Regions from separate parts of the Homo sapiens genome. Here region 2 is linked to region 1. The links come from fine-mapping of genetic effects on gene expression. Tissue or cell type: whole blood. Region 1 holds a variant in brackets; the other region holds the start of a gene. All regions are shown on one strand. Distances are from middle to middle.

Region 1 (2,908 bases):
GGCTGGCCCAATCTGGGGGTGCTCTGACACACTAGGAATAGTTTCCCCATGCTAATGAGCAAAATCCCTGTGACAGCTATGTCAAATCAAGCATATCTGCGGCTCCTAAGAAAAATGAAAATGTATCCTTTTCTCCTTTTTCTGGGTCTTTCTCTATAATTCTAAATCTCATCACGCATTTTAAATAATAAATGGGCTGGGGGCGGTGGCTCATGCCTATAATCCCAGCACTTTTGTAGGCTGAGGCAGGTGGATCACCTGAGGTCAGGAGTTCAAGACTAGCCTAGCCAATATGGTGAAACCCCATCTCTACTAAAAGTACAAAAAATTAGCTGGGCATAGTGGCAGGCACCTGTAATCCCAGCTACTTGGGAGGCTGAGGCAGGAGAATTGCTTGAACTTAGGAGGCAGAGGTTGCAGTGAGCCAAGATTGCGACATTACACTCCAGACTAGGAGACAGAACGAGACTCTGTCTCAAAAATAAATAAATAGGCCGGGCGCGGTGGCTCACGCCTGTAATCCCAGCACTTTGGGAGGCTGAGGCGGGCAGATCACGAGGTCAGGAGATCAAGACCATCCTGGCTAATACGGTGAAACCCCGTCTCTACTAAAAATTCAAAAAATTAGCCGGGCGTGGTGGCGGGCGCCTGTAGTCCCAGCTACTCAGGAGGCTGAGGCAGGAGAATGGCGTGAACCCAGGAGATGGAGCTTGCAGTGAGCCGAGATCGCGCCACTGCACTCCAGCCCGGGTGACAGAGTGAGACTTTGTCTCAAAAAATAATAATAATAAATTAAATAAATAAATTAATTAATTAATTAAAAATGGCCTTTCTTCTCTGGAAGGAGCAATGATGGTACCTCCACCATGTGCCAGGCCCCACACTGGCATTTTCTTTCCAGGTGCTATTCATTTAAGCCCTTCCAGAAGCCACAGGCATGTGGGGTGGAGAAAGGCCAAGCAGCTTGTCCATAGCACGTGGCTAGTAAGAACAGTCTCTTACACGATGTCCTACTGCCTCCTAAAGAAGACCATCCTTAGCGATGGTTGCTGCCTTGACTTTCCAGCCTTCTCCACAGGCACCTGCTCAGCTTGGTTTGGGTCCATGGGTATTGGGAAGTTACTAATCCCACTGTGGTTTATACCTCATGACTTCTTGCATTCGGCTGAATATTCTAGACTGCATGAGGGAGAGGACTGTGTGTAGGTCCAGGGACTTGGTCTTGGGAGAACATAAGTCTGGGTCGTTGGGTGGTGGCAGAACAAAATGTTTGGAGATGGAATCTAGATGATCATCTGTGCGTGAGCTTCATGCCCAGGGGACATGGTGGGGTGGGGGTGGCGGTGTGCCTGTGTGCCCACGGGGGGCTCAGCAGATGGCACTCTTCCCTCACAGTCCTGCCGGGCCTGGCTCCCTCCCTCTGTCTTCTTCCCCTTGCATTCC[C/T]TACTTGCCTCTCTACATGTCTTCCTCCTCCATGCCTAGACGTTCTTTAGTACCTGTGCTCTAAGAGGATTCCTGCTTCCCTCTTATCCAGAGAAGTCACTTAGTTAGCTCATTTTTTTTTCCTCCAAAGAAGGGAACAAAGGCTTGACACCTCAGGGCTCGGCCTGCCTGTTTTTTGAGCTGTGTTTGCACCCAGAGCTGAGTGTCTGTCTAGCTCAGGTTCCCAGAGGCCTAGGGGCAAGACCATGTCTTCACACGTCGGGCAGCGTGCATTGTCAGCGCTCTATGAAAAACAAATAGCAGTTATGCAAAGACAAGGAAGCTGCTGGCTCATGGAGGCTGTGGTCCCGAGCTCAAAAGATGCAGGCTTGAGGTCTTAACTGCTTCCATTTAGCGCACAAGCCCACGTCCCTGACACCAGCCACAGGAGGATTCTGCACTCCCATGGTCTCTCTGAAGAGTCGGGAGAGCGGTTTGTGTGAATGTGTAAGGTAGGGGAGGACTCTCTGATTTCATTATGGATTATAGAAATAATAACCTACAGTCATCTTTCAGCTCTGATAAATGAGTGACTCTCAAAGGAGATATGCACGCCCCATTAGGAAGCTACATCCAAATCTCAGCAATCAGGGTGCTAAATGAGAACACCTTATATTTACCAAGAGGAGCATGATTTTTTTAAATGACTGACAGCTTTTCCAAAGGCTAGATCTCCTTCTCGTTCTTTTCTCTACTAAGAAACTCTGGCTCATGCCTGTAATCCCAGCACTTTGGGAGGCCGAGGCAGGTGGATCACCTGAGGTCAGGAGTTCAAGACCAGCCTGACCAACACAGAGAAATCCCGTCTCTACCAAAAATAAAAAATTAGCCGGGCGTAGTGGCGCATGCCTGTAATCCCAACTACTTGGGAGGCTGAGGCAGGAGAATTGCTTGAACCTGGGAGCCGGAGGTTGCAGTGAGCCGAGATCACACCATTGCACTCTAGCCCCGGGCGACAAGAGCGAAACTCCATCTTAAAAAAAAAGAAACTCTGCTCACCCTTCAAAGCCCAGCTCCACTGCCACAGCCCTTGGGAAGCCTTCCTCAGCTCCTATCGGCTAAATTTATCCCTCTTTCTCAGTTCTCCCAAAGCATTTGCTTCACTCCACTAGTACAGCACGTACCATGGGCTATTAGAGGGCTATGTGTGGGACTGTCATCCTGTGGGCTGCATGCATCCCAAGCACAGGAAATGTGCCTCACACGACTTCACATGCCCTTTTCAGGGTCATCTGACAAGCAAGGGAAAATCCTACAATTGGCAGAGCAGTTGTGTTGATGTAGGAAGTGTCTGAGAGGAAAGGGCTGAAAGGAAAAGTGAGGCACACTCTCGGAGAGCTAGAATATCATTCCAGGGGGTTTTAGCTAGGGTGAGGGGCTGCAGAAAGCAGTACTTGTAATGGGCCAGAGGTATAGTAGTTAGAGA
Region 2 (2,908 bases), 16 kb after region 1:
CAAGTTCACCGAAGGAGTAAGTGGTCCACAGGACTAGGAGCCTGGGATTTGCACCGAGGCAGTCTGGCTCTGTTCTCCATTGGCCACTGCGATGCCACCTGGGTGGAGGGAGCACAGGTCCAATGGCGGGGAGAGTACAGTACAACCCAGGATCCTGTCTTCCAGGTCTCTCCACGCAATTAACCTACTCAAAACTTCATGACAGTCCAGCAAGCTTGTCCAACCCACAGCCTGTGGGCCCCGTGCAGCCCAGGACGGCTTTGAACGCGGCCCAAAACAAATTCGTAAATTGTCTTAAAACATTATGAGTTCTTGGTTGGGCATGGTGGCTCACGCCTGTAATCCCAGCACTTTGGGAGGCCGAGGCAGGTGGATCACCTGAGGTCAGGAGTTTGAGACCAGCCTGACCAACATGGAGAAACCTCGTCTCTACTAAAAATGCAAAATTAACCAGGCCTGGTGGCGCATGCCTGTAATCCCAGCTACTCAGGAGACTGAGGCAGGAGAATCACTTGAACCTGGGAGGCAGAGGTTGTGGTGAGCCGAGATCGTGCCGTTGCACTCCAGCCTCGGCGACAAGAGCAAAACTCAAAAAAAAAAAAAAAATATATATATATATATATATATATATGAAGTTTCTTTGCGATTTTTTAAAAGTGTATCAGCCATTGTTAGTGTTGCTGTATTTTATGTGTGGGGCAAGACAATTCTTCCAATGTGGCCCAGGGAAACAAAACAATTGGACACCCTGGATGATGAAAAAGAGCACTCTTCAGCCCCTGCTGTCACCAAAGCCCCACCTCAGTTCTTGCCCTTAGGTAACGCCAAGATAGCAAAATGGAATTTTACCAAACCGCTCTTAGGTTCCTTCCCCAGGAGACCAGAAATGCCCTGGGGACTGCCTGCCTTTGAGGCAAATTTTTTTTCCTTTTTAAAGAAAGTGGTAAACATCTGAAAATAGAGTTTTTGAAAGAAAGTGACTCTTCAGTTGTAATTATAGCAGAGAGGGTCATTGCTTTCTATCAGCAAGAAAGCTGCTTCTATTTTTTTTTATTCTCTTTTTCTTGGTTTTTTGTTTTGTTTTGTTTTGTTTTGTTTTTTGAGACGGAGTCTCGCTGAGTTGCCCAGGCTGGAGTGCAGTGGTGTGATCTCGGCTCACTGCAAGCTCCATCTCCCGGGTTCAAGCGATTCTCCTGCCTCAGCCTCCCGAGTAGCTGGGACTGCAGGCTCCGGCCACCACGCCTGGCTAATTTTTTTTGTATTTTTAGCACAGACGGAGTTTCACCATGTTGACAGGCTGGTCTCGAACTCCTGGCCTCAGGTGATCTGCCCGCCTCGGCCCCCCAAAATGCTGGGATCACAGGCGTGAGCCACCGCTCCCCGCCGCTGCTTCTAAATACAGCCTGTATAATGCAAATCCCCAAAGAGGGCCAGCCTCTGGCCCCATTCAGCTTCCTCCCTCAGAGGCTGGGTGCGTGCGCCCTGGGCGGGGCGGCGGGCTCCCTCCGGAGAGGCCCCAGCCCGGCCTCGTGCCCCTCCCCAGCAGGCTTCCGGCCCTGCGCACAGACCCAAATGGCGCGGGAGGAGGAAGAAGGGGTCAGCTTCAAGCCTGACGTTCTAGGGGGGAGCCGCTTCTTAAGTACGTGCTAGGATCAAGGGTGCATTTGCAAACTTTTCAAAATGCCTTAGAGGAGGTAGGAGTCAAGCCCTTGGGATCTGGAGGGGAAGGAGGAGAGTCAGTTAAACCGCAGAAAGGTTGGTGGGGAGTGGGCTCAGTAATGGCCCCTGTCACAGCCTCGGGCCGGGACTCGCCAGCTCATTTTCTATTTCTAACTCAATGCCAGGCACTGAGCACTGTGCTCAACCTAGTAATTTGGAGACGGAGGTGGATATGCATATAACAGAACAGGATGCTCTCCGGACAAACGTTCTGAAGGAAAAGCAAACGGAAGATCCTCCCGCCTCTGCTGGGCAGTCTCTAATGACCCCTGGGGTATGTTCCAGACATGCGTGGGCATCTGCGAATTTACTCACCTGAGAGCTGCCTCTACCTTTTTTTGTTAAATTTTTATTTATTTATTTATTTATTTTGAGACGGAGTCTCCCTCTGTCACCAGGCGGGAGTGCAGTGGCGTGATCTCTGCTCAATGCAACCTCCGCCTCCCGGGCTCAAGCGATTCTGCTGCCTCAGCCTCCCGAGTAGCTGGGAGTACAGGCGCGCGCCACCACGCCCAGCTAATTTTTATATTTTTAGTACAGACGGGGTTTCACCATGTTGGCCAGGATGGTTTCTATCTCTTGACCTCGTGATCCGCCTGCCTCGGCCTCCAAAGTGCTGGGATTACAGGCGTGAGCCACCGCGCCTGGCCTGCCTCTACCTCTGATCCCTGGGATCAGAAATGAGAAATGCAAAGATTGTCCCTGTGTTATGTGTGTACTGTTTGTAATTGTAATTCACAATCCCCTTTCTTGCTCCTCACCCCATATTCAATTAAGAGAGAAAGGTGAAAAACACAAAGCACAAAATGTTTCCAGGAAACTATCTGAAACTCCTGGAAGGCTAGATTTAGGTATAAACAGAGTAGAACTCCAGATTTCTGCAATGCTCCTTAGGGGCTGAGCTTCCTGCATGCCCTTGACAATTAGAGGAGTTTTTTTTAATACTTCAAAATTATTCCAGAAAGGCATGCAGATGAGAAGATAACCAGGTTATGAGGAAGCCCAAGGTATTTGGTAAGGATGCTCAAGTTTTGGGGAAGGTCAGCTGAAATAGCAATTTGTGGGTGGACTATTAGCAGGGAGTTGACTGGAGAATTAATCAGACGTTGAAGGGACATGGGGGACCCGGGAGGATGAAGTCTGAACTCGGGCTCAGGATATGGAAAAAGATTGAGTAAAGCTGAGATTC

Evidence for each region.
Region 2: it holds the start of NINJ2-AS1, and the variant in region 1 is fine-mapped to the expression of NINJ2-AS1 in whole blood (INTERVAL, PIP above 0.99).

What each region holds. Positions count from the first base shown.
Region 1 is chr12:613,132-616,039 of GRCh38, forward strand. All of the region lies in intron 1 of NINJ2 (ninjurin 2), which reads right to left. Among named protein-coding and RNA genes, the nearest start is that of NINJ2-AS1, 16 kb to the right of the region's middle. The variant C/T (reference allele first, on the strand shown) is at 1,444.
Region 2 is chr12:629,292-632,199 of GRCh38, forward strand. It overlaps NINJ2-AS1 (NINJ2 antisense RNA 1), which reads left to right and starts at 1,600. Exons shown (of 5, transcript NR_122124.1): 1 at 1,600-1,694. The region is part of intron 1 of NINJ2 (ninjurin 2); the gene reads right to left. RefSeq lists silencers at 1,386-1,465, 1,526-1,625.